6 linked regions of the Homo sapiens genome follow. The protein of the gene in region 1 purifies or fractionates together with the protein of each later gene. This does not show direct contact. Each region holds a gene or a part of one and is shown in the gene's direction. Other genes may lie near its edges.

Region 1 (5,804 bases):
CAGCAGGTATTTTTTCAGTGGCCTCATACAGGACACTTTATTTTTATATTAAAACAAACAAAGATACAGAGCAGAACGCCAAATTCACATGAACTTTTAAGATAAAATATGAGACTTAAGAAATAGTTGGTTACTGTAGTGACTGATACAGACCATAAATGAGTCCAAACTCTTACAGGTAGTATGGGATGGAGTTGGGACTGGAGTCCACGTCTTCTGACATCCAGTCCCATGGGATTCTGCCCCCCACCCAATCTTTCTCACCTTTGCACCATCCTAGGGAGATTACAGAATTCTTTCCCACCCATTTTCTTACCCATACAACAATCCTGCAATCCAGGCCTGGATGGTTATCTAGGAAACTAAGGCCCAGAAGATAAGTGGCTTGTCCAGACCACCACACTCAAAATTGATGGATCAAAGACTTGAACTCGGCTGGGCGCGGTGGTTCATGCCTGTAATCCCAGCACTTTGGGAGGCCGAGGCGGGCCAACACGAGGTCAGGAGTTTGAGACCAGCCTGGCCAAGATGGTGAAACCCCGTCTCTAATAAAATACAAAAATAAGCCAGGCGTGGTGGCCGGCGCCTGTAGTCCCAGCTGCTCGGGAGGCTGAGGCAGGAGAATCGATTGCAGCTTACCGCAACCATTGCCACCCAGGCTCAAGTGACCCTCTGCCTCGGCCTAGCCTCCAGAGTAGCTGGAGCCACATACGTGTGCCACCGCACCTGGCTAACTTTTTAAAAGAAATTTTGTAGTGACAGGTGGTCTCACCATGTTGTCCAGGCTGGTCCTTTTTTTTTTTTTTTTTTTTTTTTTTTTCAGACGGAGTCTTGCTCTGTTGCCCAGACTAGAGTGCAGTGGTGCAATCTCAGCTCACTGCAACCTCCACCTCCAAGGTTCGAGAGGTTATCCTGCCTCAGCCTCCTGAGTAGCTGGGACTACAGGCATGCAGCACCACACCCGACTAATTTTCGTATTTTTAGTAGAGACGGGGTTTCACCATGTTGGCCAGGCTGGTCTTGAACTCCTGGCCTCAGGTGGTCCGCCCGCATCAGCCTCCCAAAGTTCTAGGATTATAGGAGTGAGCCACCACGTCCGGCCATAAAGTGCATTTTCACCCACCAGATGAAGCCCTCCTCTGCCAGCATTCTGCTTCCCCCCATCATTAGAGCGGCCAGATCCTAATTGTGCATGTCGGCCTTGCCTTCTGCTACATGTGCACCTTCCCCGCATTATACAAATCCTTACCACAATGTTGTGAAACAATACTGGGCATGGGCTTCTCTCCCTGTTTCACAGATGGGTCTAGAGACTTACATGACTCAGCCAAGGTCACACTGCAACCCCTGGTATGACCTAGAACAGGCTTCTCAGCCTCAGCACCATTGACATTTGGGGCAGGGCAAGTCCTATTGCCCAGTGCATTGTCGGGTGTTTAGCAGCGTCTCTGCTCCCTGCCCACTGGATGCCAATTTACATCAACCCCAGCCATGACAACCAAAAATGTCTCCAGATGTTGTCAAAAGGTCTCCTGATGGGCTGAACCAGCCCCATTGAGAAATACTGCCTTAGAACGCTGTGGGTTCAGCATGCCACCTTAATCTTTTCATTGAAAACACAACTCCTGGCCGGGCGCAGTGGCTCAGCCTGTAATCCCAGCACTTTGGGAGGCCGAGGCGAGCAGATCATTTAAGGTCAGGAGATTGAGACCAGCCTGGCCAACATGGCGAAACCCTGTCTCTACTAAAAAATACAAAAATTAGCCAGGAATGGTGACACACACCTGTAATCCCAGCTACTAGGGAGGCTGAGGCAGGGGAATCACTTGTAACCCAGGAGACAGAGGTTGCAGTGAGCCAAGATAGCACCACTGCACTCCAGCCTGGGTGACAGAGCAAGACTCCATCTCAGAAGGAAAAAAGAAAAAAAAAGAAAGAAAACACAACTCCTCTCCTCAGTCTTACCCAAGGAGGGGAAAAAAAAAAAAAAAAAAAGAAAAGAAAAGAAAACACAACTCCAAGGACCAACAATTAGTATTTTTCTTCCTTCCCTAATACACAACATAATCTCTTTAAAACAGATGGAACTCATATTCCAGTATCTACCCTTGGCATCTTCTCAAAGTATTTCTAGGGTGACAGTTGGGAGAAAATGGAAAAAAAAAATTTGGACACAAGCTCTTTTTTCCACTGGGCTTTGAGAAAATCCCCATCTTGCGTGCTCCTAGTGTATCTCTCACTGATAAGTTTGCTCATAAAACCAGGGCCTTATCCAGGGCCACGCTTACAGAACTCCCACGGACACACCATGATTAGGACCCTGCTGCTGTCCACTTTGGTGGCTGGAGGTAAGTCCTGTCACCCAGAGGCACTGGTTTCCCATCCCCTGGTGGGGCTGGAAATGGGATCTTCCTGTCCTCCCCTCTCGCCCCCACCCAACCCCTACTGCATTCAGACCTATAATCATAAGAAAACCGAAATGGAGTTTCAAAGAATTGGAGCAAACAGAAGGATTTTATGACCTCTTGGGATCCTTCTAGAACAAGGGTTTTCTATTTGGGGGTTCAGAATGCAGCATGTATAGTTTACATTGTGTGGGTCGCTGCTTCCTGGACTCAAGACCCTTTCTCTTTTCACAGCCCTCAGTTGTGGGGTCTCCACTTACGCGCCTGATATGTCTAGGATGCTTGGAGGTGAAGAAGCGAGGCCCAACAGCTGGCCCTGGCAGGTGAGTTGACCACACTGTACTTCTCCCCGTCCCTGCCCCACTCCCTTTACATCCCCCCTTTGCCCTTCCACCATGGCGTCTATTGTGCTGGCAAAGTTAGGATTGATGGGATTCAGAGAGCAGCACAGGAAACTTCACCAACAAGATACATTTCCAGCTGGGCACAGTGGCTCATGCCTGTTATCCCAGCACTTTGGAAGGTCGTGGTGGGCAGATTACCTGAAGTCAGAAGTTTGAGCCCAGCCTGGCCAACATGGTGAAACCCCGTCTCTACTAATAATAAAAAATTAGCCAAGCACAGTGGCACACGCCTGTAATCCCAGCATCTCGGGAGGCTGAGGCAGGAGAAAGACTTGAACCTGAGAGGCAGAAGTTGTAGTGAGCTGAGATCGCACCACTACACTCCGGCCTGAATAACAAAGAGAGACTCCATCTCAAAAAAAAGAAAAAGATACATTTCTGTGGCCTTGGCCAACCTTGGGAGTGAAGGGAGAGGTGCCTCCTCCAGCTGCAGTAAAGAGCTGTCCCCTCCCCACTGCCCATAAACAAATTTACAACTATAGTCTTACTCTGTTAACCAATCAGAGGCTTTCTTTCAAATGTACCATTATCCTATGAACCATTCAAGACTACCTATGCAAATATTCCTTGCTTTAAGGAACCAATCAGTGCTATTCATGCAGATTCATCTTTAACTACAGGCAAATCAATGTTACCAAGGAAAATAAATGTTTCTTAAGTTGATATAATAGTGATATTAAGACTAAACTGCCGAGTGGGGCACAGGCACAAATTACTAAGACGTGTTAACGGTGGGAATTTCAAAAGAAATGTGTAAAGTTTACATTGACGCAAACAAATATAGTAAAATCTCATTTATCTGATATAATTGGGACTGACTAAATGAAAAGTTGGTTATAAAGAAATTATTTTAAATCATATATGCTGTAAACATTTTATTTTAGACTATGTAAACAATTTTTTGAGTTCTTAACTGTCTTTTTCATATAAACCATGCCCCATAATATCTCATCTACAAGTCCATTTCTTTAAAGCAGAGCAATAACTTTGAGATATTCATAAAGCAATCTGAGTTACGAGCCCATCCCGACTTTTACGACTTTTCCCCCCAATCTTTCTGTTTCCTCAAAGACACTAATTCAAGAGCAATTTTTTAGGAATCATGGTATTCAGTCTCTTCCAAGCATTTAACTTTGTTTCACAACTCTCTTTCTGAACTCATATTTCATTGGTTACATATTTAATCAAATTTCACTATTGCAAACATAATTGATATAAACTGCTTTAGGAGCAAACCCAGCTGAACCAGGATGAGTTTCTAATTTAAGTAGAAGGAGCAACTAGCAGCCCACTAGCCTTGAGCATTCAGAGTGACCTATGCAGCAGTCACTGTGTTTAGAGAGGCCAGCGTTCATTCATCTGCTCTTTGATTAAGAGACTGTCCATGATAGGCCAGGCGTGGTGGCTCAGGCCTGTAATCCCAGCACTTTGGGAGGCCAAGGTGGGTGAATCACTTGAGGTCAGCAGTTCAAGACCAGCCTGGACATGGTGAAACTCTGCCTCTACTAAAAATACAAAAATTAGCCAGGCATGATTGCGGGCACCTGTAATACCAGCTACTTGGGAGGCTGAGGCATATATATATATATATTGGGATATATAGTTTGTTTGTTTGTTTGTTTTTGTTTTTTGGTTAGACAGAGTTTTGCTCTTGTTGCCCAGGCTGGAGTGCAATGGTACAATCTCAGCTCACCACAACTTCTGCCTCCCAGGTTCAAGTGATTCTCCTGCCTCAGCCTCTGTAGTAGCTGGGATTACAGGCACGCACCACCATGCCCGGCTAATTTTGTATTTTTAGTAGAGACAGGGTTTCTCCATGTTGGTCAGGCTGGTCTCTAACTCCCGACCTCAGGTAATCCACCTGCCTCGGCCTCCCAAAGTGCTGGGATTATAGGTGTGAACCACCACACCCAGCCAAGAGGAATAATATTTTAATGCATTTTTTTTTTTTTTTTTGGAGGCAGAGTCTTACTCTGTCACCCAGGCTGGAGTGCAGTGGCGCAGTCTCAGCTAACTGCAACCTCAGCCTTTCAGGTTCAAGCAATTCTCCTGCCTCAGCCTCCTGAGTACCTAGAATTAGAGATGTGTGCCACCACACCAGCAAATTTTTTTTGTATTTTAGTAGAGACGGGGTTTCACCATGTTGGCCAGGCTTGTCTCAAACTCCTGACCTCAGGTGATCCACCTGCCTCGGCCTTCCAAAGTGCTGAGCTTACAGGTGTGAGCCATCCTGCCCAGCCAGCTATTGTAATTACAGTTATTAATCACCCTGAGAGCCCTGCACCGTGGCTTATGTTCCCCATTTCCAGAGAAGGTAACTGGGACTTGGAAAGGTTACAGAATTACCCAAAGGCACTGGGTTAGCCCGGGGGGGAATGAGGATTCAAATCTGGTTCAGTGCTTGTTCTTTTAGCTACACTTTGCTGGCCACAAATAATACGTATTACGTGGACGAAATTTCCCATCTGTAGGATGGTTTCAGCACATTTTTAAATTGGGGTGGGGGAGTAGATACTTTTCAGTGTCTTTTTTCACTTGGTCCAATTTTAAGCATCTTTTTAAAAGCCAGTTCATCTAAGGCCCCTTAATGTCACAAAAACGAGAAATGCCCAGTGGCTAATTAAAAACAAGGACGTGGCCAGGCACAGTGGCTCACGCATGTAATCCCAACACTTTGGGAGGCTGAGGCAGGTGGATCACCTGAGGTCAGGAGTTGGAGACCAGCCTGGCCAACATGGTGAAACCCCGTCTCTATTAAAAGTAAAAAAAATCAGCAGGGCATGGTGGCAGGCACCTGTAATCCCAGCTAGTGGGGAGGCTGAGGCAGGAGAATGGCTTGAACCTGGGAGGCAGAGGTTGCAATGAGCCAATATCGTGCCACTGCACTCCAGCCTGGGCGACAGAGGGAGACTCCATCTCAAAAAATAAAATAAATAAAGTGGAAGAGACAATAAACAACTGAATAGGTAAACTAATAACACGCCGGAAAACGAAA
Region 2 (5,102 bases), on another chromosome or scaffold:
TCTCTCTCCAAGGCTTCCCTGCTTGGGGGAGACGTGCAGCCCTATGGCTCAGGGACCAGGCCTTCACCTGTGTTCTCCTGCGTGGTCTGGAGCCCCCAGAAAATGACAGCACTCTATTCCCTTCCAGGCAGCCGAGGGGACCCTGGGCCCCCAGGACCACCTCCTGTCATCCTGCCAGGAATGAAAGACATTAAAGGAGAGAAAGGAGATGAAGGGCCTATGGGGCTGAAAGGATACCTGGGCGCAAAAGGTGAGGCTTCTGACCTGCAGCCAGGGGCCCCTAGTCCCTGCCGCCCCAGCCCGCACCAGCTCGTGCCCTTCTCCGTCCCCAGAGACGCCCGTGCCCTCCACCTGGCTTTCTTCGTGCTTTTCATCTCTGGGCGCCCTGTGTGTCCATAGCTGGCGCAGGGTTGTTCTCTGATGCCTGAGTAACCTCGGTTTCCCATCTTAAGATTTGCAGCACTGGCCGGGCGCGGTGGCTCACGCCTGTAATCCCAGCACTTTGGGAGGCCGAGGCGGGTGGATCACAAGGTGAGGAGATCAAGACCATCCTGGCTAACACGGTGAAACCCCGTCTCTACTAAAAATACAAAAAAATTAGCCGGCATGGTGGTGGGCGCCTGTAGTCCCAACTACTTAGGAGGCTGAGGCAGGAGAATGGCGTGAACCGGGGAGGCAGAGCTTGTAGTGAGCCGAGATTGCGCCACTGCACTCCAGCCTGGGCGACAGAGCGAGACTCCGTCTCAAAAAAAAAAAAAAAAAAAAAAAAGATTCACAGCACGTAGGACAGCAAAATGCATCCAGGCTGCAAAATTGAAAACTGGAGGGCGGGTGCTGCGTCCTCACCAGAGTGTTACACACCAGGGTCTTCCTGCAGGTATCCAAGGAATGCCAGGCATCCCAGGGCTGTCAGGAATCCCTGGGCTGCCTGGGAGGCCCGGCCACATCAAAGGAGTCAAGGGAGACATCGGAGTCCCCGGCATCCCCGGTTTGCCAGGATTCCCTGGGGTGGCTGGCCCCCCTGGAATTACGGGATTCCCAGGATTCATAGGAAGCCGGGTGAGTGGGCGTCTTTTACTCCCCTTGTTCTGTGAGCTCCTCTCCCCTTTGCTTGTGAATGGACATGCTTTGGTCTGGAATTTGCTAGGGTGAGAGTGTCAGTGGCAGGTTCAGGGCAGCCTCAGGCTTGGTGGGGTCCACACAGCCCTGGAAGGAGCTGCTGCACTTGGACACCATGCAGATGTGATGTGAGTCCAACCGGCTGCCGTGGCCCTTCTGTGGGCTTGTGCTGGGTGAAGCATGTTGTCTGCATTTTTCATGGTGGCCTTGAGAGAACAAAACTTGAATTTTCAGGGATCAGAGCTCTAAAATTGAGCACATCAGTGACACCAGGCCTGAGAGCCCATGGCCGAATCACAGCGTAGACCTGGGCCCGGCAGCCTGGCTTCCCATCCGGGCCACCGTTCACTCAGCCTTTGTTCAGCGGATGTCTGTTGAGCACTTGACATGGGCCAGACACGCTGTTGTGATGGTAACAATGGTGAGCCCTGACCCTGGGCAGGGCTCTCTTCTCCACACCTTCTCCCTCAGCTGCAGAATGAAGGTAGTAGCTACCTTGCAGTTTTCTTGAGTGCTGTATAGACAGTGTGTATAACATAGCACAGCGTGGCTCCCCATAGATTCCGTTTCCTAGAATTCCATTTCTAGCCTCGTTCATATGAAGATAGTGTATTCTCACAGTCCCTAGCACACGGCTGGCCTTCCCAGGGGGATGGGCACATTTGGAGCAGATCAGAAGGTCTGGGCCCCTTGATGTGTTTCAGTCGCGTCCGTGTGAAAAGACCACCAAACAGGCTTTGTGTGAGCAATCAAGCTGTTAATTTCACCTGGGTGCAGGCAGGCTGAGTCTGAAAAGAGAGTCAGCGAAGGGAGATAGGGGTGGGGCCGTTTTATAGGATTTGGGTAGGTAAAGGAAAAAGGGGGGTTGTTCTCTGGCGGGCAGGAGTGGGGGTCACAAGGTGCTCAGTAGGGGAGCTTTTGAGCCAGGCTGAGCCAGGAGAAGGAATTTCACAAGATAATGTCATCAGTTAAGGCAGGAACAGGCCATTTTCACTTCTTTTGTGGTGGAATGTCATCAGTTAAGGCAGAAACCGGCCATCTGGATGTGTACGTGCAGGTCACAGGGGATATGATTGCTTAGCTTGGGCTCAGAGGCCTGACAGTGTGAACCCTTAGTAGCAGGCCAGGGCCTGCCTGTGTGTCTGTCTGGCCCACCTTGGTGTACAGAATTCTTCAGGGGTCTTCCTCCCCTCACTCCCAAAATCTGCAGCTGAGAGTATCTTCTAGCCAGTCTGTGTGTGCTATTCAGGTCACTTTAAAAAAGAAAGATGCCAGCCAGGTGCAGTGGCTCTTGCCTATAATCCCAGCACTTTGGGAGGCCAAGGCAGGCAGATCACTTGTGGTCAGGAGATCGAGACTAGCCTGGCCAACAGGGTGAAACCCCGTCTCTACCAAAAATATAAAAAATTAACCGGGTTTGGTGCTGCGCACTCATAATCCCAGCTACTGGGGAGGCCGAGGCGGAAGAATCGCTGGAACCCAGGAGGCGGAGGTTGCAGTGAGCCGAGATTGCGCCGTTGCACTCCAGCTTGGGTGACAAAGCAAGACTCCATCTCAAAAAAAAGACAAGAAAAAAGAAAGATGCCTGTTTCTGCCAAAGACACCTACAACATCCAAAGGACCTTTATTCATAACAGCTCGAAACTAGGAAACAGCCCAAATGTCCATCAACAGGGAAAAGAATAAATGAACGTGGTATATTCTAACCAGACACAGCATTATCTGTGCATTTTATCTCCATACACAGCAATAAATGAGAATTCTTGGTAAAATCCAACAACCTAACTTCATTTCCAAACTTTATGTTGAACAAAATAAACCAGAAACAGAAAAGTACACGATTCAGTTTCATCGATGTGAAGTTCAAGAACTGACAAGGCTGTTAGATGGGGTATCGGGAGCACAGCTGCTTTAGGTGGGGTTGTCATAGAGTGCTGACAGTGTTCTGTGTCTTTCAGTGACACACGAGTTCAGATGCATTGAGCTGTGCGTTTAAGATGAGTGGACATTACTGTATTTAAGTTTTGCTTCAGAAAAGTAAGCTTTGAGAAAGAAAAATAGAGCATTACCTAAACAAAGGTGCAGCCTGTGGATACCCTCCCCCTTCCTCCCACAAAGGAGCTTTTGTTTTGTTTTGTTTTGTTTTTTGAGACAGAGTCTCACTCTGTCACCCAGGCTGGAGTGCAATGGCATGATCTTAGCTCACTGCAACCACTGCCTCCTGGTTCAAGCGATTCCCCTGCCACAGCCTCCCAAGTAGCTGGGATTACAGGCGCACGCCACCACGCCCAGCTAATTTTGTATTTTTAGTAGAGACAGGGTTTCACCATGTTGGCCAGGCTGGTCTTGAACTCCTGACCTCAGGCAGTCCACCCACCTCGGCCTCCCAAAGTGCTGGGATTCTAGGCCTGAGCCACCACCCCCGGCCTAGCTATATTAATACTGCAGCGACTCATGTTAGGCCATGCTTGTACATTGATGCTGTAGTACTAAAGTCCCAGTGGCACCCAGGTAGACCAGAACTCTCATGCTCCCTCTGGGGAGGAAGCCACTCTGGAGGGGAAAACTAGGGCTTCCAGGAAGCCACCGAGCAACTCAGGCATCTTCTCAATTTCCTTACCAGCCACCTGTGTCTTTCTGGAGAAGTCTCCCTCTGTGCACAGATGGAGGCGCACAGCCCCATATCTGTGTTATAATCTGCAGAGAGCAAGCTCTGCAGTCTGGCTGCCCAAACTGAAATCCCGGTTCTGCCACTTGCTGGCTGAGTGACCTTAAGCAAAACCTTTCTGTGCTTCAGTTCCTTTGCCTGTCATTGGGAAGTAACGGTGCCTGCCTGGCAGGGTTTTCATGAGGCGTGAATACGCTCTTGAGACGGGGTCCACCATGTGCACGCGGGAAAGCATGGTGGAGCGAGGATGTAGTCAGAGTCACCGCCGCCGCTGACATCACCACACTGTCGTGATGGAGACCTGGGCCACTGATGCTCTTCATTATGATGCAGTTGCCAAGCTTGTTTCATTGTATCACTTCACAGTTCCATAAGAACAGCAAGGCCAGGTGCAGTGGCTCACGCCTGTAATCCCAGCACTTTGGGAAGCAGAGGAGAGAGAATCACTTGAACCCAGGAGTTCAAGACCAGCCTGGGCAACAGAGCAAGAGCCCATCTCTACTAAAAATTTAAAAACTATTAGCAGCCAGGCTTAGTGGCTCACACCTGTAATCCCAGCTGCACAGGAGGCTGAGACGGAAGGATGACTTGAGCCCAGGAAATCAAGGCAACATTGAGCTATGATTGTGCTTCTGCACTCCAGCCAGGGTGACAGACTGCGATCCTGTCTCAAAGAAATAAATAAATAAATAAACAAAAAGAACAGCTAAGCAAACCGCCTATGATACACACTAAAAAACACGAGTTTTCCACAAAATGACAAGATCACAAACCTTGAGTATTGTCGTTAGCATACTGGATAGTTAAATAAGTGAGCTAACTTCAGAGTTACAACTGACTTCGCTAACAGCCTTCTAAGATGGTTCATGTCTGTCTTTAGGGTGACAAAGGTGCCCCAGGGAGAGCAGGCCTGTATGGCGAGATTGGCGCGACTGGTGATTTCGGTGAGTGTTGCCCGTCCAGTGAAAACAGGGAGTCCACAATTCAGAGCTCTCTGAGCATGTGAGCCAATTTCAGACCTGCAAGTGCTGTTAGGTATTTTAAAACAAATTATTCTTGTTAGGAATATAACAAAATAGAAGTTGCAAAACTCACAAAGTCCCAGTGGAAAGTCCTGTTCTTAGCCGTCTTTTTTGCATGTAACAGGTGACATCGGGGACACTATAAATTTACCAGGAAGACCAGGCCTGAAGGGGGAGCGGGGCACCACTGGAATACCAGGTACGCAAGTTATTTTCCTTGTCTTCATCTTCAACAACAGCCCTGAGCCTTTGTCTAGGAGCCCGACTTGCCAAACAGATCAAATTCAGTAACA
Region 3 (5,102 bases), on another chromosome or scaffold:
TCATCTGTAAAGAGGAACCTGCCTTGAAAGTTTGTAAAGCACCTTTATTCAGTAAATCTTTATTGAGTACCTACTGTGTGCCAGGCACTACTCTAGGAGTTCGGGATACAGCAGTGAAGAACACAGACGGACAACCCTGCCCTCACGGAGCTTATATTCAGAGGGAAGAAAGCCACTTAGCAGGACAAAGAGCTAAAATGGATAGTACAGTGTGTTGAGAGGTAACACACATGACAGAAAAGATAAGGTATGGGGCCAGGCACGGTGGCTCACACCTGTAATGCCAGCACTTTGGGAGGCCGAGGTGGGCGGATCACCTGAGGTCAGGAGTTTGAGACCAGGCTGGCCAACATGGTGAAACCCCGTCTCTACTAAAAATAAAAATAAATTAAAAAAAAAACAGCCAGGCGTGGTGGTGGGCGCCTGTAATCCCAGCTACTCGGGAGGCTGAGGCAGGAGAATTGCTTGAACCCAGGAGACAGAGGTTACAGTGAGCTGACACAGTGCCACTGCACTCCAGCCTCCATGACAGAGTGAGACTCCATCTCAAAAAAGAAGAAAGAAAATGTCTAAAAGCTGCTTGGCCTGTCCCCTGGACTGTTGTCTGGAAGAAAGGTGATGCCTGCAGGCATTCTTGCTGTGGAGTGCACTGGATGTCCCAAGTTGGACATGCCTTTGGAAAGGCCTCTGCCCTGCCTCAGTAACATTCCCTCCTTGAGTACCCTTGTTTTCTATCCCAGGACATCCTCTTTGATGCGAATACACACAAAGTGAAGAAGTTTGTTCTACACACCAATTACCCTGGGCATTATAATTTCAACATGTGAGTACACCTGTCTGTACCTCCCCTCTGTGAAGTGAGTTTTGGGCTGAAAACCCCAGGAAAGAGCTTTTGGCTTTGGGTGTTCACTAATTTATCTACACCTGAATTCTTGCTGTTTCATGGGAAGTGAATTTCCTGAGTGCTTGCTGTGTTCCTGGCACAGGGTCCAATGCCTTACATCTCTCTGTTTGAACCCATTTTACAAATAGGGAAATAAGTTCAGAAAGCTTGATGTCTTATCCAAGGTAATAGGCTCTCCAGAACCCAGGGCCAAGATCTTTTCTGTTCGACTTCCGTGCCTAAATCTGGCCTCCCCCAGTGAACACTGTCAGGCACTCAGAGCCAGGGCTTTGGGCAGGTGTGTTTGGTTCTGTTTCTCCTGGGGTGTGGGGTTGGAATATGGGAGTGGCCAGGCCTTCTAGGAGGCCCAGCCTTTACCCATTTGCCTTCTCTCTAGTTATCATCGCTGTGAGTTCAAGATCCCACTAGCCATAAAGAAAGGTGAGTAGTGAAAGCTCTCAGGGTAAGGGAGGGGTTTTAGAGTCTGTTTTCCACTATGAAAAGGGAGAAAGATCGAAGCAGTGGTTGGATGTGTGGAGCTTCTGCCCATGGCCTCAGTTCCTCTGGGGTGGGCTCATTGTTCTGGGGGCTGCAGTGTTCTTGGTCTGAGTCTCCTAGAGGCCCTTGAGGCCTCTTCCTATGACTGTGGGATTGCCGGCCTCTGGAGGGGAGAGTTTCTTATCTACAGATGATCATCCAGGGGGCCCCAGCCCATCCTTGTTGCCTGCCACCCACTGCCAATTGTTGTTGCTCACACCTGACTGACCTCCCTTCACCCCTCCATCCTCTTCCACCCTGGAACTCCAAAACAGCCTGTTAATCCTCCCCATGTACTCCAACCCCAGTGCAAAGGGACACCAGGTCTGGTTCCTACCTAGGGCTGGGGCCACAGGTAGGCTGGGCCAGCTACAAATCTGCCCCACTGTCTTCTCTTTTCAGAAAACGCAGATGGTCAGACAGAAACATGCACGACCTACAGCAAGGTGAGCACCTATCTTCCTACCTGGCATAGCCTGAGAATGAGGTGGACATGAGCCTGCAGGCAGTATGGGGCTGTGTCCTCTAGGCCAGCCATTGGTCACAGACATGTTCATGTCCCTACTAACCCCTGCTCCCCTCTATCCCTCTTGCAGTGGGACAACATCCAGGAGCTCCTGGGCCACCCTGTGGAGAAGCCTGTTGTCCTGCACAGGTGAGTGGGAGTTTGATGTCCCCGGCCACCCCACCTGACTCCTCAGAGCCCAGAAAGCCCAGGGAAGCCTGGCACAGTGGATGTTGCTTAAAAATTACAGAAGTTTCTGATATTGCCACAAGCATACTTCCTGCCCCACTCTGCACATTAGGACTGAGTCAACTGTTCTGTGTGTTCATCTTTGATAGAGAGAATGTCCCCAGGGGTAGCTCCCCTCTCCCAAGCCTACCTCTAGGTATGGGGGCCTTCTCACCCTCAGTTATTCAATAAGGAAGGAGGGCTTGGCTGGCTGGCCTGGGCTCTTTTTCCCTTTGAGCTTTGAGCTGCTGCCTGCTGAAGTCCACAGCCCCGTTCCTGGTTGCCATGCTGCCTGAGATTCTCTCACTCAAGAGGGCCCTCTTGACTCCTCGCCACCCTAGTCCAGTTCCACAGTAACTTTTTTGTCCTGTTGGGCTCTGTATGTATAATTCTGAGTTGAGTGAGACCATCCCTACCCCTAGGATCTTGCAGGCCTGTGTGGGAAACAGACAGACACTCACAGCCATGAGAGACTACTGGCCAGTATCCCATACCCCAGAAAAGACTGGATCCCTTGCTTTAAGGCCGTGGCCTCTGTCTGCCTCTCTAATTCTGAATTCTTTGGCCTCAGGTCTTCCTCCCCAAACAACACCAACCCATTTGGTTCCACATTCTGCTTTGGTCTTCAGCGAATGATCTTTGAGGTAAGCTGTGGAAGCCCTAGAAATAAACTGCCTGGGGGGTTGCTGGTCATGGCAGGGCCAGGTGAATGATGGAGGGAAATTGGGGAGGGCATCACTGCCATAGTGGGCAGATTCATCCTTCTTCAGCAACCGTGTCTGCTGCATACCTGGCCTCCCCACACTTAACAATGAAGGTTCAGAAATGATGTTGAGAAATCTGGGGTCACAGAGGCCGAAGCAGTGGTCTGTGTCCAACAAGATGGGAGGTAACGGATCCCAAGTTTCTATCTGACAACATGATTATAGCAGGGAAGGGAACCACAGGGCAAGTGGGGCCCAGCAGAGGGTGTTGGGGGCCCTCCAGTGGCATGTGAACAAATGCATTGTAGGGGAGTGAGTGGCTCTGGAGGCCCTGCTGACTTGGGAGAACAGCAAGCTGCCCTTGTTTTCCCTGTGGATGCAGTATCTCCAGCAGACACTTAACAGTTCCAGAAGGACTGGACACGTGGCCATGGTAAAGGCTGTGTGTAACCATTGAGAAACAGGCAGATCTCAGGCAGAGGGGGGCCTTTAGCATGAACCAGGGGAGGTTGAGGAGTCGGGAAACCCAGCCATTAGGTGCAGGTATGTCACACAACCTCCAGCCCTCATGCACAGGATCTGCCTACATCCCTTTACCTCTCCCCCTTGACCCACTGTCCTCTTCTCACACCAGGTCATGCAGAACAACCACATTGCCTCGGTGACCCTGTATGGCCCCCCCAGGCCTGGTAGCCACCTGAGAACAGCGGAACTCCCCTAGGGACACCACCACCCATGCCCCTCTGTCCCGTGGAACTGTGCATCACATCCTGCTCAGTGGGCCTCTGTACCACCCTGTGGGTTTTCTTGGACACCTGGCCAGTGCTGAAGGGCTGTTGTGATGTTCTGAGGTTGGGCTCAGGCTGGGTGCTCTGCCATGGGCTGAGTGGCCCAGATATTCTTCTGTCCATCTTTGGCCTGCTGGTGCCAGCAGGGGACACAGACTGCAAAGAGAAGCACAAAGTTTGAGCCTTGATTCCTGGACCCAGGAGCTCTCAACTAACAAGGAGGCAGGAGAGGTCAACCCTTGTCCCATGCACATTGGGAAGACTTGGGGCTCTTTCTGTGACTGAGGACACAGGCACCCAGGATAAGGACAAGGTCCTGCCTTTGGCTCCACATTGCCACATGACCCTTAAGGCAAGCAGGTAGCGTGTCCATAGTACTTGGTTGCGACATTTGCACTACATCCACTTTAGTTACTTGATGAGCTGGCTGTGGCCAGGGTGGCCCACCTGCCCTTCCCTGTTCCTTTCTTGCACGCGCTCCCTGCCTGGGCACACCAAACTGGTTGAAACACAGCTTTCTACCATCCAGGTACATGCCCAGGCCTGGTTCTCACCCCTGTTGGAGTCAGCTTTCAAGATTGCCTGTGCCCCTGCTCTGCCCCATCCTGGCTGGCAGGGCTGCATGTTTCCATCCTGTTTGCCTCTTTTATTTAATGCCAAAGTTTTAGCCAAAGACATCTTCCTACTTTTGTTGTGTTTCAGCATTCTGTTCTGCACTGTGGGCTGGCTCTCTGCCCCAACCCTGGGCACTGGCCCCTGGCTGGGCCATTTCATGGCTCAAAGCCTCTGGGGGCTCAAGGAAGGCTGGGCTGCTCAGTCCCTTCATGGGTCTTGCTAATGGAAAGTAGCATATATGTGCTTTAAAAATATTAATCCTTTTGAAAAGAACTGAGAAGAAAAATGTATAATTTTATCCCATTTTTAATATTTTGGTCTAGCAACTTGTGATACATAGATGACAATTTTGTGAGTTTTTCAAATGTGTGTACAGATTTTTGTAAATATGACTCTTTTGTAATTAACTCATGTACAGCCTCATCCTGTATAGTTTAATGATGAATGTGCAGGGGACCTGTCTCAGGCTCCTATATGGTTCCTGGGCCTTATAGCCAGGTTTGTGTGGCGCTCCCGACTTTTGTGACTGACTGGTGTCTTCCCATTTGGACTGTGGCCTGGCCAGAGCCCCTTGCATATCCCCACTGTCAGGGGCAGCCAGGACTGTTCCCATCCTCCTGGAATGGGGGAACCTTCCTTATCCCCTGCCCACATCCCCTCTCCAATAAAGCACCTGTGCCCTCAGCAATGGCCTGCCATGTGCTGTTGCTGGGATGTTTGTATTAAGGTAAGTGTGGGTATTGGTTTTTTGAGCAAGGGGGTGGTTGAAGCATATGGGGAAATTAATAGTGGTGGCATCTCAGGGGAAGACATTCCTTGGCTCCTCTGAGGGGATACAGCCT
Region 4 (4,431 bases), on another chromosome or scaffold:
GGCATTTGTACTGAGGTGGGTATCAGGGGAGCTCAGCTCAAGGTCACTGTCAGCAGCTCCCTGCCCACAGAGCTCCAGGACTTCTCTGGGAATGGGGCCCCAGTCAGGTCTGTCCTCATCTTTCCCCAGTGGCTCCTGAGGGAAAGTGGGGCAGGTGCAGGGGTGACAGCAGCCAGCATGGGTGGCTGGCAAGGGGGGAGTTGGGCAGAGGAGCTGCAGAAATGGGAGAAACCCCAGCATGGTCCAAGCCTGCCAGGTTAGGCCAGGAGAGGCAGAATGTGCCCTGTCCGTTCCTCACTCAGGCCCCATGCCCCCTCTGTACATGCCCCTTAGGGCAGCCCACGGACCCCACATGCCTAAGCCAGGGTCCCACCCGGCATTTCCAGCACTGGAGCTCAGGCTGTCCTGTCCCGTTTGTGGCCCTGTCTGTCTCTCTTGTTTTGAACTCCAGTGAGGACAAAGGAGTTCTTATTGGGCTCCCAAAACCCCACCAGGGGTAAGCCTTGCAAAACCAGTGCCTGTCACCTGAGCAGAAAGGAGGAGCTGTTGGTATTCAGAGTAGGGGCCATCGGGAGACGACACCTGGGGCCAGGCCCCAGGCCTCGAAGGGCATAGGGGAGGTTGCTCCATAGGAAGGAGACAGCCTGTGCAGAGGCCTGGGGTGGGAAGCCAAGGGTGCAGACACCAACCCCAGGGCAGTGTGGGTTGAAGGGAGCGCTTCTGTTCCTTATGTAACAGCTTGACTGAGATGCACTTCACATAACACACAATTCACCCATTTAAAGTGGGCAATTCAGTGGTTTCTGGTGCATTCACAGAGTTGTGCAGCCATCACCACAATCAATTTTAGAACGTTTTCATTACTCCAGAAAGAAACTTCATGCTGTTGAGCAATCACTCCCCCACGGGCCCTGGCAATCCTAGACTATTTCTGTCTATATGGATTTACCTGTTCATACAATATGTGGTCCTTTTGCAACTCACTTCTTTCACTTCACATATTTTTCCCCCTTTTTATTGATTGATTGATTGATTGAGAGAGTCTCACTCTGTAATCTAGGCTGGAGTGCAGTGGCACAATCATGGCTCACTGCAGCCTCAACCTCCTCTGGGGCTCAAGTGATCCTCCCACCTCAGCCTCTTGAGTAGCTGGGATTACATGTGCATACCACCACACCCAGCTAATTTTTGTGTTTTGCAGAGATGGTGTTTCACCATGTTGCCCAGGCTGGTCTCAAACTCCTGAGCTCAAGTGATCCACCTGCCTCAGCTTCCCAAAGTGCTGGGATTACAGGCTTGAGCCACCATGCCCAACCCACAACCCACTTAGCATGTTTTCAAGGTTCATCAGTATCGTAGCACGTATCAGTACTTCGTTCCTTTTCATGGCAGAATACTATTCCATCGCATGTATGTACCATATTTTGTTTATCCATTCTTTAGTTGATGGACATTTGGGTTGTTTCCACGTTTTAGCCACTATCAATAATGCTGCTCTGAACATTCATGTACAAGTTTTTGTGTGGACATACATTTTCGTTTCTCCTGGGTACATAGCTAGGAGTAGAATTACTCAGTCACAAGCTAACTCTATGTTTAACTCTTTGAGGAACTGCCCGACCGTTTTCCAAAGCGGCTGCACCATTTTCTGTTCCTCCCAGCAGCAGATGAGGGTTCTGATTTCTTCACATCCTCGCCCACACTTGTTATTTTCTGTCTTTTCAATTATAGCCATTCTCGTGGGCGAGAAGTGGCATCTCATGATGGTTTCGATTTGCATTTCCCTGCTAACTAATGGTGTTGAGCATCTCTTCATGTACTTACTGGTCACTAGCATATCTTCTGTGGTGAGATGTGTCTTTAGATCCTTTACCTATTTTTAAATTGGCTTGTCTTTTATTATTGAGTTGTAAGAGTTCTTTATATATTCTAGCTACAAGTCCCTTGTCAGATTTATGATTTGCAAATCCCTCCTCCCATTCCATGGCTTGTCTTTTTACTCTTTTGATGGCCCCTGGGGGAGCTTTTTAAAAGGATCGTGCGGGGAAGGGGTCCAGGGCCAGAGGCCTCAATTCTTTTCTTTCTCCTCCTCCACCAGCACTCAGTAGAACCCTCCACAGCCTGCCTCCCTTTCCTTCCCCACCCTCACCACAATCCCACAGAGAAGTGGGTGCAGAGGCCATCCACCTCATTGTCCGCCCACAGCCAGGCCAGACTCAGATACAAATACATCACTTGTGCACTTGGTTAGGCCAAATATTGCATTTTACAATTAAAATACTTGACCCCCTCCTGCTCTTCTCCCATCCTCTGTCCTAACACAAACATCCTAATAGAAGGGAGGGAGCACAGAATTTAAAGTCGGGGCTGAATTTGAGTTCTGGCTTGCACACTTCCTAGATGTGTGATCTTGGGTACATGATGTCACAACTTCCAGCCTCGGATGCCTCGGGAGTGGGATGGGTTAACAGTCCCTGCCTTTGGGGGTTGGGAGAATTTAACCAGGTGAAGTCAGTGAAGGCTCTGGCCCATGACATGGGGTCTGTACACATGGGTGTCCTGCTGGACAGCTCAGAGTCAGCATGACAAAAGCCCGTTCCTGCACTGGTTTCGCTTGCAGACCACAGCCTGGGTGAGCCAGTTCCATCTCTTGGGGGTGCCCTCTGCTGACGGCTCACGGTTCCTGTCTGCAGGCTCTGTCCGTCTCCTCGTTTGTGACCCATTCTGGGACAGCATGGAGTCTAAGGCCACACTGGCTGTGGGTGGGGTCTCAGGGCTTCTAGATGAGCTGAGTCACATGGCCTCGTGAGTGCTACGCAGGCCACTCAGATGGCATCTGGAGAGAGAGGCTTGCCAGCCGGTGTCTGTAAGACCTTGTGCAGGATGAGAATGACATCTTCTCTCTCCTGCCTCTGCAGACAGAGTAACCGAACGGTGCGCGTGACCCAGGAATTCCTGGAGTACCACGTCAACGGGGATGTGAAACAGGGCCCCATTTCCGATAACTACCTGTTCACACCGGGCAAGGCCGCGGTGCCTGCGTGGGAAGCTGTGGAAATGGAGATTGTGGCGGGACAGCTTGTGACTGAGATCCGGCAGTACTTCTACAGGTGCTTCCCCTGGGGTGACCCCCACAGCCCGGCACACAGTCAGCGCACGCGTGCAGGCAGCTCAGTGAATGAGGGTCTGTCTTTGCTCTGAACCCCAGCTTCCGGGCCGTGGTTGACACGTGGTCTGATGAAGAAATGAATTGCTCTGGTGTCTGCATGCTGGCTGCGTTTGCGTGTGCTGTGTCACGTTGGTTGGGAGCTAAGTTCAGAGCTGGGAGAGAGACCCACAGACCCTGGGGCCCACAGAGCACCTGTTCTTCCATGATCAGAGCAGACGTAAGGCAGGCCCGGCATGGCAGCCCTGCGGTGTCGGGGAACCAGGCTGCTCCCAGCCGCTCGGGGTCCTGGGTGGTGCTATTGTCCACATGGCCCAAGAAGGCTCCCTGCCTTTCGGCGTACCCTGCCCTGCCCACCCTGCCCACATGAAGGAAGGGAAGCAAAAAGGAAGCATCTAGAAGGTTCCTGGAGCTTCACTTACTGATGCTCCCTTCTCCTCCAGGAACATGACAGCACAGAATTACACGTATGCAATCCGCTCCCGGCTCACCCATGTGCCGCAGGGCCATGACGGGGAGCTGCTCTGCCACCGGATAGAGCAGGAGTACCAAGCCGGCCCCCTGGAGCTGAACCGTGAGGCTGTCCTGAGGACCAGCACCAACCTAAACAGCCAGCAGGTCATCTACTCAGACAACAACGGCTACCAGATGCAGCGGAGGCCCTACGTTTCCTATGTGAACAACAGCATCGCCCGGGTATGTCCTGCAATGCCCACAAGGCACGCTCCCAATGGCGCCTTTCCTGGACCCATTAAGCATCAAATTGCAGCAGTAGAGGCCAGTAGAGGCCTCCAGTGAGAATGTTTTTTTCCTTTTTTTTAAGATGGAGTCTCACTCTGTCACCCAGGCTGGGGCGCAATGGAGCGATCTTGGCTCACTGCAACCTCTGCCTCCCAGGTTCAAGCGATTCTCCTGCCTCAGCCTCCCGAGTAGCTGGGATTACAGCCGCCTGCCACCATGCCCAGCTAATTTTTATATTTTTAGTAGAGATGGGGTTTCACAATGATGGCCAGGCTGGTCTTGAACGCCTGACCTCAGATGATCCACCCGCCTCAGCCTCCCAAAGTGCTGGGATTACAGGTGTGAGCCACCGCGCCCGGCCTCCAGAGAGAATTCTTTTAAAGCCTGTGTATCTGCCCGTTCAGGGCTTGAGCGTGCAGGCTGTGAGTCAGACTGGTGTCTGAATTCTGGTGCTACCACAGACAAGAATAGTATGTGCCTTGGCTTGTGCCTCGGTTTCCTCTCCTGTAAAATGGCTCCTTCAT
Region 5 (5,604 bases), on another chromosome or scaffold:
AGCACTTGTTCCGGGCTATGCCCTAGGGGAGTAGGAGTCACATGACTATCCTAGCCTTGGATTTGACTTTGGCCTCATCCACCTAGAGGGAGTGAGCACCCCTTTCTCACAGGAGCCAAGTGGAACCCTGGGCCCCTCAGGATGACTTGGTAGGGCGGGCTGGTTGTCACTCATGTTGGGTTGGGTCCCCACCTGCCGTGGCCCTTCCCCCTTTTCTCTGCTCCTTCACCTTCTTCCCTAACGCTGACTGCCCACTGCCAGGCCTTTGTGCATTCTTGGTTCTCCTCCTTCCAGACAGCCTCCTTCTCCTTCCCGCTGGGGACACCCCAACTACTGTCTCCTGGAAACCAAAAATAAAACTCTAACCCCCCAGCCATCTGAATGGACCCCTCCTCTCCACCAAGGGCATTCCAAACTTAACCTGAAAAACTATTTCAGGCCGTGATAGGAAGTGGGAGTCAGGCCTCATTATCCCTCCTCCCTTCAGGTTTCAGGCACAGCTAAGCAGTGTAACATCGACACAGAGACTTGAAGACTGACAACAGACTCTGTGGCAGTAAGATACCAGCATGACAGCAGGCCCGGAAGGAAACACATATTTTACTGCAAAACAGGTTTCTTTCACATATTTTGAAGTCGCTCTGCAAAGCTGTTTTTTGTGGGGAAAATCTACATTCTGTAGAGAATCCCTATCCCTTTCAAGGTCTTTTCTCCTGAGAGAATTAACTAGAGTCTGGCACCTTTTATTTATTTTTCCTTTTTTTTTTCCTTTTTTTTTTTTTTTTTTTTGAGACAGAGTCTTACTCTGTTGCCCAGGCTGGAGTGCAGTGGCATGATCTTGGCTCACTGCAACCTCTGCCTCCCCGGTTCAAGCGATTCTCCTGCCATCAGCCTCCTGAGTAGCTGGGATTACAGGCGTGTGCCACCACGCCTGGGTAACTTTTGTATTTTTAGTAGAGATGTGGTTTCACCATGTTGGCCAGGCTGATCTTGAACTCCTGACCTCAGGTGATCCGCCCGCCTTGGCCTCCCAAAGTGCTGGGATGACAGGCGTGAGCCACCACACCCGGCAGAGTCTGGCACTTTTTAATAAGAAACATTAACAGTCTTTTCTCTGTGAAGCCTGATACCTGGAGGCTTCATTTGCCTAAGAAACTTGGTCTCCACAACCCCTTAATGTAGACAGTCCCTTTTATTGATTCCAGGTCTTTAGATAAACTCTTTGAACCAACTGCCAATCCGCATGACCTAGAAGCCCCCCTCCACCCCCCACTTTCAAGTTGTCCCGCCTTTTCCGACTGAACCAATGTATATCTTACATGTGCTGATTGATGTCTTGTCTCCCTAAAATGTATAAAACCAAGCTGTGGCCCTACCCCCTTGGGCACTTGTCAGGATCTCCTGGGGCTGTGTCCCAGGCTATTGGTCACATATTGGCTCAGAAGAAATGTCTTCAAATATTTTACAGAGTTGGACTCTTCGCCGACACTGCCCTCCAAGGTTCACCCTGTTGGTGATGACGGGAGAAGTGGCACTTGGAGCACTGTTCGCAGGGGCGCTGAGCCTCCTCTCTGCCTAGCTTTCTTTCCTGCACATGTGGCCTTCCCCTAGCCATTGTGTAGGCAGGTCCTCCAGGGAGCCGGCTTCGCTGCAGTCTCCAGGACCTGGCCTTCCCGGTCTCTCTTTGCCTGACACTCTCTTAGGCCATTCCTGTTCCTCTTTCCCCACCCTCAGAACCGGCAGGCCCTCCCTCCTCCACAGCGGTTCGGCCTTAAAAAGACCCCTTTGGGGCGCACTTTTGGGCTGCTCACGGGACCTGAGCTTGCAGGTGTGAAGACCCTTGGAGTCCCAGCCAGGTTCCCACTTCGTTCTCTCCGCTCCCCACCCGCGCGACCCCTCGGCGCCCCGCCCCATGCCCCGCGCCTTTCGATGTCCATCCTTGCCGTCCCGCGCCCGCCGTCCCTAACCGGCGTCCAGAGACCCTACTCCCTTCGGTGGCCCCGCCGCTCAGGCCCCGGCCCCGGCCCTGCCTCTCTGCTTAACCAATGGCACGCCTCACTCCGTATGGTCCCGCCCTTCCCTTAGAGCCCGCCCCTCAGTCCCCGCCCTTAGGTCCCCGCCCTCCGCCGTCGCGACCTTAGGCCTCACCCTCTTCGGAGGGCTTTGGCTCTGGCCCCGCCCCCCATCTTGACGGTCATTGGCCCGCGCCTGCGTCGCGGGCGGGAGGCGGGGCGGGGCGGCGCGGCGCGGAGCCGAGCAGGACGGCCGCCATCTTGCGCGCAGCTGGAGTCGGTGCCTGAGGTTGCAGCCGAGAGTGTGCGCCAGCCCGCGGCCCAGCCGAAGCTCTTTCCCGCCGCCTCTCCGCGCCTCGCCCAGGTTCAGCTCCGCCTGACCCTCCGCTTGGCACGGTCCCCTGACCCTCAGTCCGGCCTGGTCCGGCCTTCCAGCCGCCCCGGGGACGATGAACGGAGGATAAATGGTGCCCAAGGCAGACAGCGGCGCCTTCCTGCTGCTCTTCCTGCTCGTGCTCACTGTCACCGAGCCGCTGCGGCCAGGTGCGCCGCGCGATGGGGGCGGTGTGGGGGCTGGGCGGCGAGCGGGGCCGGGGTCGCCCCGGGACCTCCTTTCACCCGCGGCGCCCTCCTGCAGGGGCCGCGCCTGGGGCAGGGGCGGGCGGGGCCTGGCTCGCGGGCCGCCTGGCACTCTCTGCGGACGCCTGCTGGAGCTTACCTGGGCTCGCGGCGCCTCGGACTTCGTGCAGCTCTGCTGTCCAGGATGTTGCCTCTGGGCCCTTCCCGGGAGCGGCGGCGGCCAGGAGCTACGCCACGGGCGCACCCTCTCGCCAGTCCAGCGTCGGAGTCGGGCTGGGGACAGTGGCTCTCAGGGGCACCTGGTTTCACAGACGTCCTCCCAGCAGTGGCCTAGTGCCAGCCTCTCAGTCCTGGAAACTCCTCGCCTGGACAGCGGTGGTTGTGGCTGTCATTCAGTGAGACGTTGCGCTAAGGAAGTCCTCAGGTCCCACCGGGCCTAGAGGAGGCACCAGGAGTCAGCCTAGCGTTGTGTGGCCGGCGCGAGCGTCCCGGGAGCAGAGACCTCGCCACTGTGCGGGGCCCTTAGCCGTGCTGCGTGTATGTGATGAATGAGTCCGTGCTTTGGAACTCCCCTCGGAGCTAGTGTGTTCTTAAGTCTGTGGTGGGGAATCAGAACCGTGGCAACCAGGAGACCCTTTTCTACCTATTTCGGTGTACCTCCCCTTGAACTGCACCAAAAAATCAAACTCCCTAAATGCAGGGCCGATGTATCCATCAGGCACAGGAATCCTGGTATCACTTGCCCACGGTACTTTTAGTAGCCTTCGAATGTTATTTTATTTTTTTTTAAAGTCAGCAGAAAAAAAATGAACTTTTAGGTCAAATAAAATGTTTTCGTATGTATATTAATACAGTCATCTTTATACTAATACAGTGAAAAAGCATGACTCTTAATATTTCTTAATGGAGGAAAGGTCCCATGAAGGCAGAAGTGCCAGGGCCATCTTCTCTGATGACCTGGGTGTGGGAGCACGGGGTGTGTGGCCCTCTCCTGTGCCCTAGCCAGGCTCCCAGCCCAGATACACCGCACCTCTTGGCTCTGCGCTTGTGTCATCTATGTGGAATGTCTGCCTCCTCCCTAGTGCCTGCCTGGTGGCCAAGGCCCTGACCGGTGCTCAACCTGGACAGATTCAGTGATGCTTCTCTGGTCTCCCCATGTAGAGCTAGTTGCTCACTGCTTTTGGCTGCTCTCTGGGCAGCGGGATGACTAGTTGTGGGGTGGCCTTGGTAAGAACAGAAGCCAGGAAAAGGGCTACCTGTGGAGGAGGGTATCATATAGGCTCTTGGAGGTCAGAACCAATGGGTTTGTGGATTCTTGTGATTAACTTCTTTAGAAAACATATATGTACGTGTAGAGAGGTAGAAGGTCACCGTTTTCTGATTCTTGAGTCCCAGTTTTGCAGATGAGGTCACCGGGCTCAGGTGAGGCCATATTATGCCTGGCTTCTTTGGGGTGCCTCTGGTTCCAGGCCCAGCATCTCCTGCCTGGGTGATAGAGGTGACTGACGTCCCCGACTCCTTTTTCCTTGCCAGCCTTTTCACATAGCCTGCCAACTGGCCAGCAGCAACTGAGAAAGTGCCTGTGGGTGCTTGCCCCCTGCCCATCCCTAGGGAATCCAAGTGACAAGAACAAGCCCCTCCTTTTAGGAGTGCCTGATGTGGAACAGAGGCCAGGTGTAAGTCACTTGTCACACTCCTGTGTGTTGAATACCCTGGAGTGTGGGGTCCCAGAGGTGGGTGGAGGTGGCCATCTTTTTGTACCTGTGAAGCAGTGAGGGCGTCACAGGAGACCTCACACTGAGGTCGGAGTAGGGCATGGGTGGGGTGGATCTGGTAGAGGGAGCAAACTTATTCTTTCGATTCCATGACTCTCCAGATGAGAACATTGCAGCTACCCCTGGAGGCGTCTTGAGTTGCCCTGCAGAACCCGGGAGCTGCAGCTGGCTTCCTGGCTTTGGCTGGGCAGGGAGGGCAGGCCTCTGGGCCTGATGTGTTCCTTGTATGCCCGTGTGTGCCTCTTCACACATTCACCATGTGTCCTTCCTGAGAGTGCTGCAGGGATCTGCCTGGCTGGTGCTTGCAAGAGGCTGGGGCTTCTCTGGTCTTAGTCTGCGTTCTTTCTGTGGGGATTCCGGCCTTAAAAGCATACTTGAGTATGAGGAAGGTATCAGTCAGAGCCCACTTCTCAGGAGGGTGTTTTCTGACTCCTGCCTGGTGGGGTCCCTGAAGATGATGCCAAGCCACCTGGGCTTCCTCTCTGGTACAGGGCAGGGTGGAAGGCCTTTCATGGAGTTATGGGGCAGCAAGTGCTTGCTGTACTTGACCTTTCACCAATTTTTTTTTTTTTTTTTTTTTTGAGACAGAGTCCTGCTCTGTTGCTCAGGCTGGAGTGCAGTAGCGTGATCTTGGCCCACTGCAACCTCCACCTCCTTGGTTCAAGCGATTCTCCTGCCTCAGCCTCCCGAGTAGCTGGGATTACAGGCATACGCCTCCACGCTCGGCTAATTTTTGTATTTTTAGTAGAGATGGGGTTTTGCCATGTTGGCCGGGCTGGTCTGGAACTCCTGACCTCTGGTGAGCCACCTGCCTTGGCCTCCCAAAGTGCTGGAATTACAGGCCTGAGGTACCATGCCCAGCAATTTTTTTTTAAGTGCACATTTGAACTTGATTTAAGATGTGTCATGTGCCGGACACTGTTCTAAGCACTAACATATGTTAACTCTCAAGAGGTCCCTGCTAGATGCTGTTTTTAGCCTCATTTAAAGATGGGGAAGCTGAAATCCAGAGCACTCATGAAGCTAAGGCTGAGATGAGATTTCATCGTAGGAGTCTGGCCTTCCCCCCATCATGCACCCGTGACTGGGGTCTGTGCACTCCAACTGTGTGTCTCCAGCCCAGCCACAGGAGTACCTCATATTATGCTCTGAACAGCTTCCTTAACCCCAGGTGGAGCCACAGACTGCCTCTGTCCCCTGTTAGGTCCCAGGGTCCTCTAGGTGAGGGTGCAGAATCT
Region 6 (4,343 bases), on another chromosome or scaffold:
CCTTCCCCATCCTGGTGGCCCTGCCTGCTCCTTCCTCGGGGGCTTTCTTCCTTAGGCCTGGCGGCCCGATCCTAAGGAAGCCCCTGCTTTTCTTGCGCCTGCCGGTGCTCTTCTCCCGCCCGCCTGGCCCTGCTGTCAGCGCCCCCTAGTGCCGGGCCGGCCGCGCATGAGGGCGGTGGGACAGATCGCCCACAACTCCTCGGCTTGCTTTTGGGGAAATAAGGCAACAGAGGGGTCTCTTGGAGTCTGGAGCTTCCATGTAAAATCCCCAGGGTCTACTCTTGGCTTTACCACCCTCTCCATCTCATGGCACGATGGCCTGTCCCCCCAGATTAGGGTGATACTGAAGGAGGAGCAGGAGAAAAAGATCCTATCTGCCTTGTTTTCTATCCATATCCAGATAGCTCTTGACTTTCCCAGGCAGCCAATGTCCCCTGGAGGTCAGGGACCATAGTCAGGCCCTCGGTCCCTGTCCACAGTCCCATCCCCCTACTTTCCCCAATTTGCCAAGAAGCCCTGGTGTCCCAGTGAACTGTCCCACCGAGACCCCGGCGACAGACTCGGCTGATGGATCCCAAGGGCCCCTCCCCTCCCCAGGCCCAGGTGCCCGCCTCCTCCCCACTCCACTCTGTGGCTGCTGCAGGCCTGCAGGGAGTCGGGGTCAGTGGTTCGTTGCTGGCTGGCTGGTGTTGGCCAGCCCAGGAGTGAAGGCCATGACCCCTTCATTCCCTAACCAGAGCCGGCTGTACTGCGCGTGTGGTGGCAGGGGGCCTGGGAGCGGTTGCAGGATGAAGACCAAGGTCTCAAGCCAGACCAGACGAGTGCAACGTTTTTGCACATCTTGCTGTTTCAAGTGACTGCTTTGAGGTCCTGCACTCCTGGGTGGACAGGCCAGACTCCTTCAGTCACAGGCAGGCATCCCTTGGAGAAGGAAAGGTTGCAGGTCTACATATCTTGGCTTGGGGCAGGCTCCAGAGACTGCCCGGTGTGTGTGTGCCCATATGTCAGAGCCCCCGGGGGAGACTGAAAGGGAATCGGAACTGACCACCTTCAAAAAGCCAAGAAGTAATTGGTTCTTCCTTGCACTCAGCAAGCAGGGAATTCCATTCCCAACCCACCTACCCCAGGACCTGACTTGGGTCAAGAGATGGTAGGACAATTGAGCGGCCCACAGCTGAATTAGATGGATCAAGCTGCCATATCTGAGGTGGCAACATGGATGTGCAGGGCCAGGGAGGCAGAGGAGGAGGAGGGCGGGACTCCCTGCCTGCCCTTCAGGTTGATGCTGAGGGGCCTCCAGGAGACTTGGGGCCTAAGAGGAAAGGAGAAAGGAGGCACTTCAGGCAGACAGGGACCCTCTCTTCATTGGAGCAGGCCCCTCTCAAACCAGGCATCCCCTCCCAGGGAAACAGGACACTTGGCAGGAGGTGCCAAAGATGAGCCAAGACCTGGCCAGCAGATGGACTGTGTGGGTGAGCATGAGTGAATGAGTGAGTGGCAAAGCCAGGCAGAAGCTCTAGGCACAGGCAGGGCAGGAGAGAGGTGGGGACAGATCAGGCAGGGATGCTGCAAGCCCTCCCGTGTCCTAGCTTCTCCCCGCCTGCCTCCCCTGTAGAGCCGGGACAGAAGGCACTGTGGAGTTGGGGGCATGCTGGCTGAGCATGAGTGTGTGCAGGCGTGGGTACGGGCTCATGAAGAGCTGTGTAGTCCACACACATCGTCAGGGTGGCCGTGCTTCGGGCCTAAAGGGCTTCCCGCAGCAGGGAGACGGTGCTCTCACACCAGAGTCTGCCAGCCAGGGGGCTTTCCCTCCCCTGGCTGAGCCTTCCTGTGACCTGAGCTGCCCCCTGCCCATCCAGGGAGCAGGCGGGGATCCCCCTGCGGAAGGACACAAGTGAACCCAGAATGGTGCCTCAAGGCAGGCAGCCTGGCCCAGATGGTGCCCCCACTCCCCAGACCCAACTCTAACCAGGCCTGGCCCTCTCCTGTGTCTTGCAGAACTTCAGCGAGAGGGAAGCATCGAGACTCTGAGTAACAGCTCAGGCTCCACCAGCGGCAGCATACCAAGAAACTTTGATGGCTACCGATCTCCGCTGCCCACCAATGAGAGCCAGCCCCTCAGCCTCTTCCCGACTGGCTTCCCGTAGGTACCAGCAACCTGCTTCTGACTGGCCAGCCCCCTCCCCTGCTGGAGGAGGGGAGAAGCCCCGCTCTGGTCCTACCCTTCAGTCTCTGCTCTTCCTTCATCAACCACCTTCCCCAAGCTTAGTGACAGCAGCCGCCCATCCTACCTGGATGGAGAAGAGACCCTTCTCCAAGCACCTCAGCGCACTTGCCCTCTGCCACACCTGTCGGTGGAGGCTGTGGCCAGGAGAGACTGTAGAAGCTCGGTCCCTGTGTATGTTTGCATATGACATCCTGCATTGGATCCGCTTTTGTATTTTTTAACCATACCCACGGTGGGGCGGGTGGGGGGAGCCTGGAACAGTGACCAGATCTGGGGGCCTGAGTGGGGACAGAGTTGATCGTCCACCTGGCCATTTTGACCCTGAGTGGACAGTCACAGCCTCAGCTCATGTCTGGCTGTGACACACACTGCCCCCAGCTTCCCTTGGTCAGCCCCACTCCAGCACGGGGTGAACGGAGGCCCAGAGTACTAGGGAAGGAGGAAGGGAGGACATGCCTCTTCTTCCTCCTTTCTTTCCCCATCTGTTCATGGGAAGAGTTTGTCTTTCTTATCTTTAAGCCCCTTTACCCTGGTCCTGTACTGATCAGTGAAGGAAACCGTGGTTACTGAGGCCCTGTTGAAAAGTGCACGTCTTGTCCAATAAATCACGCTGCAGTTGGTGTCCATCCCTGAGTTGCTGGGGTAAGGGTCCTCTCCAAATGCTGAGCAGAGTCCTATGGCCTGAGTGCCCAGGATCCCAACACCCCCTTTCATGTGCAACTTGGGGGCAGAAGGAGTCAGTGGAGGATTGGAATGGGAAGAACTTTTGTCCTGGAATTTGGATGGGGCCTGATTTAAGAAGCCCATTCTCTAAGCATCTTGCCTGTTACCAGAGGCAATGAGTTCTTGGGGTGCCACAGGGTTGGACCCTCCTCCCTGGGGATCAGGGCTTGCCATGTGCTGGTGGGTTGCTGTCAAGGGGAGAGTCTGGCAAAGCCTCATCTGGGGGGCACCTTGTTGTAATTGCCTCTTTTTAACTCAGAAGATGGAAGGGTGGTCAGGTGAAGGTGGGTATCTCATGAAACCTGGCCGGAACCCTCAGATGACACGTTCCTGATTTTGTCCCCCCGCCCCACCACCACCACTTCCGGACCTAAAGTAAGTGGCAACAGAGACAGGAACAGGGAGAAAAAATGGTGCATTGAGCAGGAAGGAGACGAATGCTAGTCCTTTGCCCCCTTCCCTGGCCCACACTTCCCAGAGACCCCAGGGAGGCCTTGGAGAATGGAAGGAAACCCACAGAGCCAGGTGTGATTTGGGGTAAAGTTTAATGGAAAAGCCGTGGAAACGTTGAGTTCACAAACAGGACTTCCCGTGCAACTGTCCAGCCAGACCTGGGGCAGCTCCTGGGGACCCTGCCCCCTTCACACACACCCATCCCATCCATGGTGCCTGAGAGGCCTTCATCTTCAGTTCCCTCCACCAGATCAGTTGGGCATGTTGGGGGCAGAGATGGAGGGTTGTTGAATCACACTAGGCTCTGTAAGCTGAGAAGACGATCCTGCACAGGGTGGCATAAGCCAGTCCCTCCTGCCAGGGCACCTGCAGGGCGAGAAGTCACATGCCAGACTGAGGCATGCTTGCGAACACTAGCCTGGCCCCAGCAGCAGGGGGTGCTGGAGGAGCTGCAGCTTTTCCCCATCTTGCTGAATTATTGATGGGCCTGGCACTGCCCCTACCCCCAGCTACAGCCATGTTTCAATCAAAAAGGGACAAGGAGGAGAGTGCTACCAGGCTACCTGTGCATGCTGCCCATGGCCTGTCTTCCTGGGGATGGGTTCAGCTGCCCTAGGAAGCATGAGCCCCTCTGAAACCACCCCAGGACACGTGGATGTGGCAGAGACCTTGCTGCCAGGGGCTCTCTCAACCATTCAGGGAACTGGCTGGCAGCTTACAGAGTCAGGAGTCCTCCCTGGCCCGGCCCTTCCCCTCCAGCAGGGGCAAAACAGCTGTGGCCTCCCCCAGGCAGGGAAAGTGGTGGGTGTAGGGCTGGACTTGCCGGCTGAGCTTGCAGGACAATCTGGTTATTCATCTGCTTGAAGTCAGGGCAACTCTTTGAGTATGTGGGGGAAGGGTGAGGATAAGAGAGACCAGATAAGCTGGCCCCACAGCGGCT

What was found.
Region 2: the proteins of CELA2B (region 1) and COL4A2 purify together in Homo sapiens (affinity purification with mass spectrometry, with the first as the bait; one large-scale study listed by BioGRID). This does not show direct contact.
Region 3: the proteins of CELA2B (region 1) and PHAF1 purify together in Homo sapiens (affinity purification with mass spectrometry; 2 studies listed by BioGRID and IntAct, with this or other methods). This does not show direct contact.
Region 4: the proteins of CELA2B (region 1) and MAN2B2 purify together in Homo sapiens (affinity purification with mass spectrometry; one large-scale study listed by BioGRID and IntAct). This does not show direct contact.
Region 5: the proteins of CELA2B (region 1) and DGCR2 purify together in Homo sapiens (affinity purification with mass spectrometry; one large-scale study listed by BioGRID and IntAct). This does not show direct contact.
Region 6: the proteins of CELA2B (region 1) and BCAS3 purify together in Homo sapiens (affinity purification with mass spectrometry; one large-scale study listed by BioGRID and IntAct). This does not show direct contact.

Annotation. Positions count from the first base shown.
Region 1 is NC_000001.11:15,473,818-15,479,621, forward strand, and holds the start of CELA2B (chymotrypsin-like elastase family member 2B preproprotein), read left to right. Parts: upstream 1-2,286; 5' UTR 2,287-2,308; coding exon 2,309-2,348; intron 2,349-2,639; coding exon 2,640-2,728; intron 2,729-5,804. UniProt on the Homo sapiens protein: Acts upon elastin.
Region 2 is NC_000013.11:110,484,778-110,489,879, forward strand, and holds part of COL4A2 (collagen alpha-2(IV) chain preproprotein), read left to right. Parts: intron 1-127; coding exon 128-250; intron 251-877; coding exon 878-1,059; intron 1,060-4,667; coding exon 4,668-4,731; intron 4,732-4,933; coding exon 4,934-5,008; intron 5,009-5,102. UniProt on the Homo sapiens protein: Type IV collagen is the major structural component of glomerular basement membranes (GBM), forming a 'chicken-wire' meshwork together with laminins, proteoglycans and entactin/nidogen.
Region 3 is NC_000016.10:67,143,554-67,148,655, forward strand, and holds the end of PHAF1 (phagosome assembly factor 1), read left to right. Parts: intron 1-740; coding exon 741-823; intron 824-1,280; coding exon 1,281-1,324; intron 1,325-1,822; coding exon 1,823-1,866; intron 1,867-2,016; coding exon 2,017-2,075; intron 2,076-2,724; coding exon 2,725-2,797; intron 2,798-3,491; coding exon 3,492-3,578; 3' UTR 3,579-4,991; downstream 4,992-5,102. UniProt on the Homo sapiens protein: Plays a regulatory role in autophagic activity. In complex with BCAS3, associates with the autophagosome formation site during both non-selective and selective autophagy.
Region 4 is NC_000004.12:6,606,189-6,610,619, forward strand, and holds part of MAN2B2 (epididymis-specific alpha-mannosidase isoform 1 precursor), read left to right. Parts: intron 1-2,918; coding exon 2,919-3,110; intron 3,111-3,609; coding exon 3,610-3,862; intron 3,863-4,431.
Region 5 is NC_000022.11:19,119,079-19,124,682, reverse strand, and holds the start of DGCR2 (integral membrane protein DGCR2/IDD isoform 1 precursor), read left to right. Parts: upstream 1-2,270; 5' UTR 2,271-2,476; coding exon 2,477-2,555; intron 2,556-5,604. UniProt on the Homo sapiens protein: Putative adhesion receptor, that could be involved in cell-cell or cell-matrix interactions required for normal cell differentiation and migration.
Region 6 is NC_000017.11:61,389,979-61,394,321, forward strand, and holds the end of BCAS3 (BCAS3 microtubule associated cell migration factor), read left to right. Parts: intron 1-1,998; coding exon 1,999-2,147; 3' UTR 2,148-2,853; downstream 2,854-4,343. UniProt on the Homo sapiens protein: Plays a role in angiogenesis. Participates in the regulation of cell polarity and directional endothelial cell migration by mediating both the activation and recruitment of CDC42 and the reorganization of the actin cytoskeleton at the cell leading edge.